Homo sapiens: one gene and its partners. The protein of the gene in region 1 interacts with the protein of each later gene in a pairwise test. Each region holds a gene or a part of one and is shown on either strand. Other genes may lie near its edges.

Region 1 (3,500 bases):
AGTACATAAATTCAAGATGAAAAATTTTTACATGCCGATTTAAAATGTTTGATGGACTTTATAGTTTTTCTAAATTCTGTAAGGGGTTTCACAGGCAAAAAAGTTTGAAGATCACTCGAGTAGTAGACAGAACAGGAGTTCTGGAGTCAAATGGACTTGAGTTCAAATCCCAAATCTAACATTTACCAGCCGAATGTCCTCAGAGAGGTTACTGAACATCCTGAACCTCAGTTTCCCATTCTTAAAGCAGACTAACATGTACTTCAGAGGACCACTTGTGAGGAAGACAGAGAAAGTATATAAAGTGTTAAATGAATAAAGGGGGCTATTATAGAGGAATGGCAAGTGACAAGACCTGATTTTTGGGTCCAACTATGCTTTAATGCACAAAAGATTCAAGGTAGTTACTTTAATTCATAATCCTAGAAGAAGGAAAGGTATTAAGACACCATAATTATCAAGATTAAAAGTACAATTTCTCCAGGTTATTATCCTCACTTGAATCTTGAATAATTAATGGTCCATAATACTCCATGAATATCAGAATTGGAGGTGATGGTCTTATGCCCAGTGAGATTTCATTCACTCACACAGCAAAATTTGGGGGCCTTCTAGGGTTAATAAGCCCTGTGTAGGAAAAGCTAAGGATAGAGTGGAATCCCTAGCCTTCTTCAGCTCCTGGTCAGGTAGGGAAGGCAGACATGGAAGTAGATCATTTCATTCTAGTGTGATAAATGCTGACAGACATATGTACAAGGCACAGTGCAAGCAAACAGAAGAAAGCAACTTTTCCAGAGGGTGACGTGGTGAGGTTATAGAAGTTGAATATTAAATGATAAAATGTTTGCTGTTTAGAAAAAGATGAGGAAGAATATTTTGGGCAGAACACATGAAACGGTACTGAGGTATAAAAATGGTATATTCCAGAAAACTGTCAATGGCTGAATACTATGGCAGGAAGAGGGGAAAGGTGGGGGATGAATGGGGCCGGGTTCTGAAGGGCAGTGAGGGCCAGGGTGTTTGGTCTTCATTCTGTAGGCAATGGGAAGCTGCAGAATGATTTTAAGCAGGTAAGTAAACTCCATCAGATCTAGTTTGAAAAAGCTCTCTGACAGATGTCTGAGGTTAGAAGAGAAGGCAGTGAAAGCTGCTAGTGGAACTGCTTTAGAGTGGCCGGTGCGATTCATAGGTGGTGGGGACAGAGAATGAAATGGTTTGGGGAGCTATTCTCCCTCCCCGAAGGAGGGCGAATCAGTGGAATTTGGAGACTAGGTAGGAGGAGGAAAGGGGGACACAGGCTGAGACCCAGGTTTCCAGGTTTTGGTTGCATAGATTAGTGCCATTAATGGAGATAGGATACAGAATATAGTACTCACTGAGAGAAAGGATCCAGCTTATAGGATAAAAACCTTAATTTATCAAAGCCACACATCATGTCCTGCCTAGGTCTGTGAGAAGGGACAAGTGCCAGCTTTGCTCAAAGAAAACCACAGAACTGTATTCCAAGGTAGGCACTACAGAGAATACATCAGAAATCCCCTGCTATGAGAGCAGCAGGCTCTCATTTTTTCCATATCATCTCAGATGTCCAATTAGGCACTTTTTTCTTTGGACATGGACCAACTGAAAAGATATCTCATTTCCCACCACCAATCAATACACAATCGCTTGGCTGAGAAGCCAGACCCACCGGGCTGGGCACACATTTTGTTCATAGAAAAGCCACACTGAGCAAGCTGCCAAAGATGTAAACAACACCACCGGCTTTGTCTAAATACAGGCCAAGTACACTCCGTTGATAGGATCTTAGAGAGCAAAGCAAGCTATTTGTGGGTGTGCACGGCTTTTGTCGAATGTGCAGTAATCTCATAGCAATCAACATTTCATATTTATAGAACATCATTTTAAAGTCTGGCATTTTCATGTATGTGAAATTGGTGCTACCTGTCCCTTCTGCAGACCAGGTGGTCTGGGCAGAGGAAAAGGCAGAGAAAGGTGATCTGTATTTCTGCACTCCATCCTCTCAATTAATAGACTTCTACACCCAGAAACATGAGCCCAAAAGCATGTGCCAGGTGTTTTTCTGAGAGTTATGAAAAGGAAATAAAAGCTGATGCAAACACAAAAGATATTACATTTCAGGCCACTAAGAGCTGGTCTAAACACTTTAAAAACCAAACCTAACATACAGAGAAACACGTAGGAGAATCTGTCCTCTTCTGTGACCGGCTTCTTTCACTCAAATTATGTGTGTGAGCACTTACATTCATTCTCTTTGCTATGTAGTATGCCTACATGTGAATAAACCAGACTTCATTCATTCAGCTAGGAATGGACATTTGGGTATTCTACAGTTTGGGTCAATGTGCTGCTGTGAACATTCTAGTACATGCCTTTTGGTAAACATATGAGTGCATTTCTGTTAGATTCATACTTAGGAGTTGGAGCTGCTGGCTCATAGGGTATACAAATGTTCAGTATGAATAGACATTGCCAGACTGTTTTCCACAGTGGTTGTATTAAGTTACACTGCCACCAGCAGAATATGAGAGTTCTAGTTCCTCTCTCACCCACACTTGGTTCTTTTCCGTTCTTTTCAGGCCATTCTGATAGCTGTCTAGTGTGACATCCGCTTATAATGTGAATTTGCATTTCCCCGATGGCTAATTAGCCTAAGGAATTTTTCTATAAAGTCTCTTAATCTTTAGATTATTCCACTCTATCTCACCTTTCCTGTGCAATTTATTTGTTGAAGAAACTGTGACCCCCCTATTTTCCATGAGAATTTCAATACAATAAGCCTATGGTTGTTGCAGGGTTACTGTATTTTACAGAAGGGCTAGGCTCATTGTGATTCTATGTGTGAACTCCAAGACAGTCACTGCCCAGGTTCATGAGACTGCTTCTAGACTAACCCTACAGCCCCGTCCAAGTGGGAGCATGGCAATTCAGAATTCTAAGCGGTTTCTTCTATCTTTTCTTACTGTTATAAAGGGAAGATAGAAATTTTCTTTCCAAACTCTTAAGAATGCTATGGAAGAGGCTCATAGCCCATCCTGGGAAGTCAGTACTAGAGGAGGCAATGAGGAGCAGAGGGGAATTCTAATTTCCACTGCTACTAATCAACTGTGCGACCTTGCGGACGTCACTTAACTTTTCAGAGCTTCAATTTTTCCTTTGAATAGTGGGATGGCAAACAAGTTTCATTTTTTTTTAAGTTTTTATTATTATTAATTTTTTATTTAATTTAATTTTTTTGAGAAGAAGTCTTGCTCTGTCGCCTGGGCTGAAGTGCAGTGGCGCAATCTCAGCTCACTGCAACCTCCACCTCCAGGGTTCAAGCAATTCTCCTTCTCAGCCTCCCCAGTAGCTGGGATTACAGGCGCCTACCACCACACCAGGCTACTCTTTGTATTTTTAGTAAGGACGGGGTTTCACCATGGTGGCCAGGCTGGTCTTGAACTCCTCACCTCAGGTGATCCACCCACCTCAGCCTCCCA
Region 2 (3,500 bases), about 26 Mb from region 1:
CTGGGGATAAAAGGTCACTGGGGTCCAGCGTGGGATGTGCCCGAGCGCCACAGCCCCTCGGGGATGCCGAGAACCCCAGGAGAACCTTGTCCTCCTCTTTGCCTGGCTCTAGGTCCCTTGGCTGCCCTTGTCAGTGGCACTCACCTCAGTTGGAGCTGCTTCCCCGGGGCCTCTCCTCGCATTCCACGTCCTGCAGCTCAATGACTTCCACCTTCGAATCCCTCCTCTCACACCGGACGTGGAAAGGCACGTGGGGGTCCTCAAACAGGCCGTGGTCAGTCTCAGGGTAGCCTGGGCAGAGTCCCCCTCGGGGGTTCCGCCCAGGCCCAGGGACAGGCGGCGGGTGCACGGCGACAGTCACGGAGGCAGAAGCCGTCACAGTGGTGATGGGCTGGCAGTAGCCGGGCACGGAGCTGCCCATGGCAGTGGACGCTGGGTTCCGAGGGTTGTGAGAACGGGCCCCGCGAGGGCCCCAGCGGGCCCTATTGCTAGGGCCAGAATGCCCTTCAGTAGAAATTTCAAAAGCGTCTCTGCGCGGTCTGTAGGGGGGTGGCCACAAGCCTTCTCTGGGGGGGTCCCTGCGGGGCTGCTGGCCTTGCCGTCCGGGAGGCAGGGACCCTGAGTCCAGGTGGGGCTGCTGTCTCGGGTTCGAGGGTGGGTGATGCCTGGATTCGGGATGGACCACCTGCAGAGGGTGAGGGTGGGTTAGAAGGGTGGTATCCCAGGCTGGGCATGGTCCCCGCAGCTCCCACACTTCCCTCCTTGGGTTTCACCAAAGACTCAGTCAACCCTGGGGAGCCAATGGGGGCCTTCCACCCACAAAAGAAAAGCCTGTCCTTCTAATAACCTCCAGGACCTGGCGGAGGAGCGTGTTGTTTGAAAATCCTGTTTCCAGGCTTTCTCTGACACGGCTGGCTGGACACGTACTGCTGCTGCCCATAAATGTGGGCTGTGGTCAGAGCATCCAAGCTGCTGCCCCCCACAACCTGCCCCCGACCCTGTTAGGTTCTGCAGGCTCTGAGCTGCCCCTCTCCCGAAGTTGCTAAGTGTGCGGCCCTGGCTGGCCTGAGTGCAGGACGCTGGCAGGACTGTCTCTGCCTACTCTGTCAAACACAGTAGCCGCTCCAGACATGTGGTTGCTTAAGTTTTAATGAACTAAAATCCAAAATCCAGCTCCTCGGTAGCCCCGGCCACATTTCAAGTGCTCCACAGCCACGTGTGGCCGGTGGCTCCCATCCTGGAAAGCAGAGAGGGCATTTTCGTCACTGCGGAGGGCTGTGGCGGGCAGCCTGTTCCATCTGATTGTTAAGAATCTGGTCTCTGCGTCTCTATACAAAGCACAGAGCAACACAGTGGCCACATCAATCAAAAGGACCGTGACCAACTTCAAAGTCGTTCAGCTTGTACCTATTTTTAGGCTCCTGCTGAACAAAACCAGATTCACACTGCAGCTCAGCGGGCGTCGTCGCGGGGGGTAGGAGGAGGACAATTCAGGTTATTTGGTTGGCCTTTCTCTCTTTCACGGAAGGGCTGCTCTGGCCTGGGACTGGAATACCCATTTCCTGGAGGGACAGCAGGGGGCCCTCAGTGGAGCAACATCAGCCCAGAACCTTCCTTGAGTTTTCAGGGCTGAGCCCATCCCAGGGAGCACAGGGTGGAGGAAAGGACCCAGGTCCTTGGAGCCTCCGAGGAGGGGCTCCCAGGCTCCTGGTGACCTCCTGAATCACTGAAGGCTAAGAACTCAGGGGTGGTTCTTGGCCTCTCTGCTCTTTCCTGCCACCTGGAACATGAGCTTGGAGCCCCAAAAGCTATGGTAAAGTATTTAGACAATAATAATGAATGTTGTATCAAGGGCATTGAAACCTAACAGAAATGAGAGAAGGAAAAAACCTGACCTCTGTTGGCAATAAAAATACTACTAGTTTTAGAAAATATCACTCTCAAATGACATGCACCTTAAGAGGAAAAAAAAAAAAAAGGCAGGAATGCTTTATCTCTGGCCTTTGAAGCCCAAACTGTCCTCACCCTGAACAAGATAGATGCTACTGCTTTGTGCAGTGACATTACTGGCCCCTGCCCTTTTTATCCTTTATGAGATCAAACCACAGGAAGATGGCATTTGTATAGTTGAGAAAGAGTTAAATACTGGTTATTTCCTATGATTTGACCTAGTCTGTACCTTATCTCTGCATCCCATCTGCCTGTGTGATGTGCTGCTCAGCAGACAGGAGCCCCCGCTGGACCTCCAGGCCCACTACCACGGTGGGAAGACCCCTCCCCCTGGTTCTGCAGAGTCACTTACAGTGGAGTGGGCGAAGACGGGGTTTTCTGTGGCTTCCACGATCACTTGGTGGGCAGGGCCTCCCGCGCCCTGCTGGGCCTCGTAGTGCCGAAGCTCCTCGCTGAGGCCTGACACTGTCGTCTGGGAACTATACTCCGAGTCGGAGGAATCAGACCCGCTGTGCGTGTGGCCGGGCGGCATGGCGAAGCGGACCACGCTGGGGGGTGGCTCAGGGGAGGGTGTGGGCAGGCGGTTCAAGCCGTTGGCTGGAGACACCTATTTAAGGGGATTCCATGTTAAAAGTGTTCTTGTCCATTTACCTGCTGGCCACACTCAAAGCTCAAAGCACGGTATTTTTCAGGGGCCTCTGTTCCCTGCCCTGGGGCCCTGCGCACTGTGCCGTATTAACCTCCCCTTCTCTACCACCTGGAGGACCTTCAGGTCCCGCAGCTGGAGCAGAAGAACTGTCCTCTGCTCCACACTGGAAAGGCAGGATGTGTACTTTTTACTCTTGTGAAGTCCAATTATGCATCTCAAGGGGAAAGTCTTCATTTACTGTATAAAGATCTGTAAGACCCAGGCTGCCAATCAGTTGATTTAGAGGAACCAAACCGAACCCGCCCTCTAGCCCTCAAAGCCAGTACACCGAAGAGGAAAACAGACATGACTCTGAGATGTTTACTGAAGAACCACCAGCAAGTGGGGAGGCACCTAAGTATCGAAGTGAAGAGCGGCACAGGAAACACAGCATTCAGCCGGCCTACACGTGGGACATCCCCGTGTCACTACTGACCTCAGGATATGGTCCAAAGAAAGACAAAAGCACGGGAAGCAAAACCAGCCCATTGAGAACGCCGAGGATGGTGAGGATCGCCAGCACAGCAAAGAAATACCTGGGAGATCAAGAGGAAACGGGAACACGCGCTGTGACAGGGTGGATCGCGCCACCCTCCGTGTGCCCGACACAGCAGCATGGCAACGCCAGAAATGAACAAAACCCACCCCACTGAAAAGGCTGTTATCCAACCGCAGTTCACATTCAACACAAGGTGAGTTTTTGCTTTTTGTTTCTTTACCTTATGACTTTGAGGACTACATTCCACAACCCAAAGTGTTAGTTCATGAAGGGAAGAAAAAAAAAATTAGTTTGTTAATTTGCTGAACTCTGATGGCATGTAATGTTATTTATGAATGTGTTACACAAACACAAAAATATGGA
Region 3 (3,936 bases), on another chromosome or scaffold:
GTCTTCCCTGATTGCTCCCCCAATTTACCCTCTGCTCTCTGTTAAGCACCACAAGCACCTAACAATCTGCTGTTCCCTCTTTAGCCATTGTCTTGTCTGTCACAGTCTTCCCATCCGTACAGCGCATGTTCTCAGAGGATGGCGGTGGAACCTTCTAGCACCGGGCAAGTTACAGCTTAAGTGCTTGTGCCTTAAATTGTTTATCAGAAGCTAAGCAAGCCACTTAAAGATGGAAACCTGTCCAGTTTTCTTATTTCTACATCTAGATGTGTATAGCAGGTTGCAAGAAAGGGCATTGACAGTATTTTTATTCTTTTTTTTTGAGACAAGTCTCACTCTGTTGTCCAGGCGGGAGTGCAGTGGCGCGACCTCGGCTCACTGCAGCCTCCTCCTCCTGGGTTCCAGTGATTCTCCTGCCTCAACCTCCCAAGTAGCTGAGATTACAGGTGTGTGCCATCATGCCCGGCAAATTTTTGTATTTTTAGTAGAGACGGGGTTTCACCATGTTGCCGGGCTGGTCTCGAACTCCTGACCTCAAGTGATCCACCCGCCTCCGCCAATCAACCAGTATTTTTCTTGTTAGTGGCAGCATTTTCCCCCTGCCGGCTCTGTTCCCGCCACACTGGTCTGCTTGCTGTTCTTTGGCGATGACCAGTCACTCCTGCCCTAGGGCCTTTGCACTGGCTATTCCTTGTGCTAGGAAAATGTTTATTCTAGATCTTTCCTTGGCTGATCCTTTTATCAAAAATCAATCATTCAGCTCTCTAGTCAAATGTCCCCTCTGCCAACAGGCCTTCCGTGACCACTTTATCTAAATTTGCCCCCTCTCAATCTTCTTGTTCCCCATGCTCCCATTAATTAATTTGCCAAGGCCCTTATCATTACCTGAAATTATCTTACATGGTTGTTTATTTGTTATCCCCTTTAGAGTATAAGCTCCAGGAACTTTGATTATTCACCATCATTTTGGCAACTTGCATAGCCTCTGGCACATAGAGAGGTGCCAATATTTGTTAAATATTTGTGAACTAAATAAATGCGCTAATTAAGCCTCTTACCAAGGGCCTGGCAGACCCCATGCTAAGCACTCCAGAAAACATGATCGTGTTAATTCCTGGCAACATCCTCTGACGGTAGATATTAGTGGTTCTGTTTTCCAGACCAAGACACAGGCTCAGAGTATTTAAATGACTTGGCCAAGGTCCTGTGGCTTAGAGGCACTAGGACCCATATTTGCACCAGGTCTGCTGGATGGCAGAGGCCAGTCTCTGAACCACAGGCATCACTGCTTTGTGCCCTGTGCCAGTCACAGAGGGGACATACAATATCTGCAGGAGGGCAGGGTGTTTGCTATCGGGTCTCAAATAACAAAGTCAGGGTGATCTTTCTGAAACTCAGATCTGATCTTGTCATCCCCCTGTTTAAGATAAATCAGAGGCAGTTAGGATGGAGCCTCTCTGCGTCCACCCCTCAGTTCCTCGGACCGCAGTCTGCAGCACCCTTCTTCCCTCCCTCTCGGCTCCCCTTCAAAGGCACTGTGCTCCCGCCTGCTACAGGGTTTGGCACAAGGGATCAGGCTATGCGGAGTTCTGTCTTGTTCTCTTGGAAACTCCTGCTCTTCCTGCGTGGCTCCAGGGAGGCTCCCTGCCCAAGTGGCAGACTCTCGCAGTGTGACACCGTCACTCTGTAGTCCTCCTGCTGCCTGTTCTTTTCATTGGTTTGCGAGACCCCTTGATGACTGTGTTTGTCTCCTAGGCTATGAGTTTGCTCACTGCTGTCTCCCCCTGAGCCCAGCACAGGCCCTGAAATAGAATGAGGCGCTCAGAGAAATTAACATTGCATGAACGAGTGAACGAATGAATGAATGAACTCTGACTGTGAGCTTTCCTGCCTGCCCTGGGCCACTGACATCTAGGGGGCAGACTCTGGGTCACTGCCTGGAGCCACAGAGCCCAGGCCCGTCCTCCAAGACCCCTGGGACACCCTCTTTCCTGCGGGCCAAGTCCTCAGAGCTGGCCCCACCACTTGCCCGCACACTCACATCCAGGTAGTTCTCCAGGGGCTGTTCATCTACCAGGGTGGGAGCCTCCCACTGGGGGAAGTACTTTCTGGCTGGGTTGAGGTTGTGCTTCTTCAGGAAGTCCTTCAGCAGGCCACGCTCGGACAGGGTGCGCCTCAAGGACTTCTTTCTGATGAGGGGGACCCTGTGGTTTGGAGAAGGAAGAGGAATTAGGCAAGGATTCTGCTGACCGGGTGCTGTGGCAGCCCCAGAAGGGAAGGGAAGCTGGTCTAAGAGAGGAAGAAGGAAGGAAAGGAGACGCCCCCTCTTCTGCCCAACAATGCAAAGAAGTTAAGTTGACTAGTGCTGGAGCTGGGAGCCAAACCCAGGCTGGACTCTTAACCAGCTGATCTAAGAGAGGAAGATGGAAGGAAGGGAGAAGCTCCCACTTCTGCCCCATAATGCAAAGAAGTTAAGCTGACTAGGGCTGGAGCTGGGAACCACAGTCAGGCTGGGCCCGAGTTTTAACCATGTCTGCAGGGCTGCCTCCCAAAAAGGCAGAGAGAGAGGCGGAAAAGGGGGATGGAGACAGCTGAAGAGAGAGAGAAAAAAAAGGGAAGAAGGAAGACACGGGAGGAAAGAAAGGTGATGTGGGAGGCAGCGTCTTCACACCCACACCACCCGGACTCACTTGTACATGATGCACTCAGAGAGCGCCACCAGACCCAGCAGCAGCAGCCACTTCATGGTTCTTCCCGGGTCCCAACTCGAGGGAGAAGGCAAGATGGGAGGAAGGTGCAGAGCAGCAGCATGAGCTGCCCCTTATATACAAGTTGGGTCCCGCCTTATCGGCCTCTGAAAGTCACCGGTTCCCCTGATCCCAAACAGAGAAGCTCCTGATAAGATTGTGGCTGCCCTGAGCCACATTCTGAGACCTTTCCAGCTGAGGCACTTTCCATTGTAACCTTGCACCATGGGGAGGGGGGAGGGTGCCATGGGGGTGGACCCGCAGAGAGAGAGAGGAGCAATGACCGGGAGGCTATTTTCTTTTCTTTTCTTTTTCTTTCTTTTCTTTCTTTCTTTTTTCTTTTTCTTTCTAAGCAATGACCTGGAGGCTTATTTGTTTTCTTTTCCTTTCTTTCCTTTCTTTTCTTTCCTTCCTTTCCTTCTTTCTTTCCCTTTCTTTCTTTTTCTTTCTTTCTTTTCTTTCTTTCTCTTTCTCTCTTTCTCTCTCTCTCTCTCTTTCTTTCTTTCTTTCTTTCTTTTCCTCTCTTTCTCCCTTTCTCCCTTTCTCCATTTCTTTCCTTTCTTTCCTGAGGGAGTTTTGCTCTGTCGCGCCGCCAGAGGCTTATTTCTGAAGCATTGACAAGGGCCTACGTTAAAACTTTACCAGCTGAGCATTTTGACAAAGTTGGTTAAAAGTGCGTTTAACACAGCATTGGAGAGATGTGAAGGAGCCCCAGGTGGCCTGATTTGTCCCAGAGGGCATGCAGCTGGGGTTCTTAGAGAGCAGCCTCCCGACTCAGTCATAGGTGGTACTGGTTGTGGTCACTGCTTATTCACAGCACATTGGGGGGGTCAGTCGTTTGGGACTCAGGACACAATTCCCCACATAAGTGTCATTGTGTGGGGTTGTTGGGCGTCTGACTAGCCTATGGGCCTTGTGGCTTGCTTTTGGTGCAACTGGGCTGAGTCTGGGAAGGAGATGTGCACAGTACACGGGGGAGGAGGGAGACAGCACCGGGAGAATGCTGCCTTCCCTTCCTGGAGGAGGCAAACTTCAGACAGGCCAGGTATGTCTTTGGAATCTGTGTCCCTCCCTTTCTGCACCGCTTCTCTTTCTTTTGCTCCTTTCCCACCCTCTCCACCTTTGAGATCCCACCTGGGTCTGATTTCTCCAGGTGCTCCAGGCTTACAACTGGGTTGAAATCAGCTAC
Region 4 (3,500 bases), on another chromosome or scaffold:
AAGGAATTTCAGAAAACCAGAGAGAGATGAGGATAAATAAAGTCTCAGATGTGGAAAAGCTTGGGGTGCTCAAAGAATAGGAAATAGTCAAGTGTACCTGGACGATACCATTTTTGCTTTTAGACATGCTGAGAATTTTTGACATTTAAAAAATGTTAAAGAGGGAAAATAAGCTGCTTAAGTATACTACATTTTGCATTTGAGTTAGTCTTATATTTATTTACATACTTATCATAAAACATATTCTTGTCTCTAGTTCATGACTTAATTTTAAATAGGAAATAAAATACCTTGAGAAGAGATTCTGCATGTCATTATGTAACTATGGTACTTAGTTTTGCCAGTCAAAACCACACATTGCCACGTGAAGGCCAGTAGTTTATTGAGTACTCAGGGAACAAAATTAGGTGGATTTTTTTCTGTTTTTTGTTTTTTGGGGTTTTGGATATTATACAGAGAGTGTAAAATTGCAATTTTTTTCTTCAGGAGACTCAGACTTGACCCTAAAATATGCATATAAACTTGAAGGCTCAAATAATGTTTTTTCCTAACCTGGAGGAAGAATTGTGAGAATAATGCTTTGCATAGAATCCTCTTCACCTTCTTTGCATGTTTCTTTTGGATCAGGCATAAAATAGGGGCCTGGTTTTGTTAGAGTGGGGGAAATAGTTGATGATATAATCACCCATTCCCTCTTAGTTGCAAATGGTATTGAAATTACAGAAAGTCATCTGACCACTAGTTGAGGTCACTTCTTTTCCCATTCCTGCCATTCCCCCATGTCTGGTATAACATTTGGCAAAATTGGTAACTGCTCTTGAGGGTTTTCATTTGTTTCTGTGTGTTCCTCTGAAATGTCATGTTTCTGGGGGAAGCAAGAACAACAGTACAATTTTCCACATTGAATCAGATGTTCATGTGATCCAAGCGTGCTTGGAAAAATCTTACTGCTTAGGATTCTATACAACATAGCTCTCTTGTGCAGTCTGTAGTTAGACAGTTAAAGGGCCCATGCCTCACCTGCAGGGTAGCCCTTCTGAGTGCGGTGGAAGCAGAGCTTTCTTGGAAAGTGAGACACCACTTGATCAGATCCATTGTGGAATTGAACAAGATGTAAGACAGAAGCATGGAATTCTGAAAAGTCAGACAATGCATTAGTGCACTCACATTGTCTTATATTTAGGTCTGTCAGGTTGTGTTATAATTTTAAAAATTAATTTCAAAAGCGATACATACTTATTATAGAAAATTTGTGCAAATACAGGAAACAATAGAAATACAGGGAAGAAAATATAGTCCATCTTAATTCTCCCTAATTTTCCTTGCATCTTAGCATTTTAGTGCTTCAGGATGGTATTTATTTTGGAACTTTAGTACATACAGGAACATAGAGAGACTACAGTATATATGTATATGTGTGTTCATACGTATGTAGTCAGATATCAGAAAAAATCATATTCTTTAAAACTTATTTTAAAATTACGGATATCACTTAGAGATACTGATGTTAGTATTTTGATATTTGACTTTTCAGTCATATATATACTTCTGTTAAAAAAACAAAAAATTCAATATGAACATATGGTTTTTATAAATTCTTCATCCACATACACTAAAATTTATTCCTTTTTTTTTTTTTCTCTTGAAATGGAGTCTCACTCTGTCGCCCAGGTTAGAGTGCACTGGCGTGATCTCGGCTCACTGCAACCTCCATCTCCTAGGTTCAAGTGACTCTCCCGCCTCAGCCTCCCGAGTAGCTGGGATTACAGGTGCATGCCGCCACTCCTGGCTAATTTTTTTGTATTTTTAGTAGAGACGGGGTTTCGCCATGTTGCCCAGGTTGGGCTCGAACTCCTGGGCTCAAGCGATCCACCTGCCTTGGCCTCCCGAAGTATTGGGATTACAGGCATGAGCCACCGCGCGCGGCCAATTTATTCTTTTTAGTATACAATACTGTAAGTTTTGACAGATGCATAGTTTTGATAGATGCACAGTTTTGATAGATGCACAATTTTCCAGAGTGGATGTGCCATGTTGCATTACCACCAGCAATGTGTGAGAGCTCCACAGATGGGAACTCATATTGTATCTTCAGAGTGTGGCGTTGTCAATTTTTCTTTTATTTCAGCCATTCTAATAGGTGTGTAGCACTATCTCATTGTGGTTTTGAGTTCCCCTCATGACTGAAGTTGTTAATTATCTTTTCCTGTGCCTTTTAATAATATATTCATGTTCTTTGTGAAGTTTGCCCATTTAAAAAATACTGGGTTGTTTTATTATTATTAAGCTTTGAGAGGTTTTATGTTTGCCAAATGAAAGCTCTTTGGCAAATATGTGATTTGCAAATGTTTTCTTCCTGTCTGTAGTTTATTTTATCAATAGTGTCTTAAACAGAGCAAAAGTTCATTTTGATGATACAAAATTTACCATTTTTCTTCTTTTTATGGAACCTCCTAGAAGTTTTAAAGTTTTAGGTTTTACATTTTTATCTATAATCCTTTTTTTCTGGTATATGTTGTGCAATTTTCCCTGCACCGTGTCTTGAAAAGATTGTCATTTTGCCATTGAATTACGTTTGCACCTTTGTCAAAAATCAATTGACTACATTTGTGTGTCTGTTTCTGGATTCTGTTCTGCTCCACTGATGTGTGTGTCCCTTCACAGGTACCACACATTGTTGATTGCAGCTTTATAGTAAATCTTCGAAGCAGGTAGTGAGAATCATCTAACTTTGTTCTTTTTCAAAATTTGTTTATGCTATTCTAATTACTTTTCCTTTTTGTTTAAATTTAGAATAATCTTGTTAATATCTACAGATAATTGTACTTGGATTTTTTAGTAGAATTTAATTGAATCTATAAAACGATTTGGGGAAAGTTGGACATCTTAACAATATTTACTTTTCCAACCCATGAACATGACATATCTCTTCATTTATTTAGATTTTTAAATTTCTTTCATTGATGTTTTGTAGTTTTCAGCATATAGTTTGTGCGTGTATTTTGTTAGGTTTATACCTATTTTATTTTTGATTAGTGCTATTGTGAATGGTATTTTTAATTTTTTTTTAGAAATTTTTATTTTCTTAGTCCATTTTGTGTTGCTATCACAGAATACCACAGACTGGGTAATTTATAAAGAAAAGAAACTTATGTCTTACAGTTCTGGAGGCTCAAAAGTACAAAAGCATGGTGCTGGCATCTGGTGAGAGCCTTCTTGATGCACCATAGCATGGTGGAAGGCATCACAGGACAAGAGAGGCATAAGAGAAAGAGCCAAACTAGCTTTTATGACAGACCCACTCTTGTGATAACTAACTCTCCTGTGATAATCTGTTAACACATTAATCCATTAATGGCAGAATCCTCATGACTCAATCACCTCTTAAAAGGCCTTACTTCTTAATACTGTTAGATTGGGGATTAAGCTTCCACATGAATTTTAGAGACAAAAACATTCAACGGCAGTGACCCTTTTATATTTAATTGACATTTTAATTG

What was found. The genes of interacting proteins can lie anywhere in the genome.
Region 2: the proteins of STOM (region 1) and PTCH1 interact in binary tests that used the Homo sapiens proteins (3 or more experiments, as listed by UniProt).
Region 3: the proteins of STOM (region 1) and PGA4 interact in binary tests that used the Homo sapiens proteins (3 or more experiments, as listed by UniProt).
Region 4: the proteins of STOM (region 1) and AIG1 interact in binary tests that used the Homo sapiens proteins (3 or more experiments, as listed by UniProt).

What each region holds. Positions count from the first base shown.
Region 1 is NC_000009.12:121,342,751-121,346,250, forward strand, and holds part of STOM (stomatin), read right to left. Parts: intron 1-3,500. UniProt on the Homo sapiens protein: Regulates ion channel activity and transmembrane ion transport. Regulates ASIC2 and ASIC3 channel activity.
Region 2 is NC_000009.12:95,446,767-95,450,266, forward strand, and holds part of PTCH1 (protein patched homolog 1), read right to left. Parts: intron 3,175-3,500; coding exon 3,075-3,174; intron 2,558-3,074; coding exon 2,303-2,557; intron 686-2,302; coding exon 146-685; 3' UTR 145-145; intron 1-144.
Region 3 is NC_000011.10:61,221,211-61,225,146, reverse strand, and holds the start of PGA4 (pepsin A-4 preproprotein), read right to left. Parts: upstream 2,801-3,936; 5' UTR 2,747-2,800; coding exon 2,691-2,746; intron 2,205-2,690; coding exon 2,042-2,204; intron 1-2,041. UniProt on the Homo sapiens protein: Shows particularly broad specificity; although bonds involving phenylalanine and leucine are preferred, many others are also cleaved to some extent.
Region 4 is NC_000006.12:143,067,389-143,070,888, forward strand, and holds part of AIG1 (androgen-induced gene 1 protein), read left to right. Parts: intron 1-3,500. UniProt on the Homo sapiens protein: Hydrolyzes bioactive fatty-acid esters of hydroxy-fatty acids (FAHFAs), but not other major classes of lipids. Show a preference for FAHFAs with branching distal from the carboxylate head group of the lipids.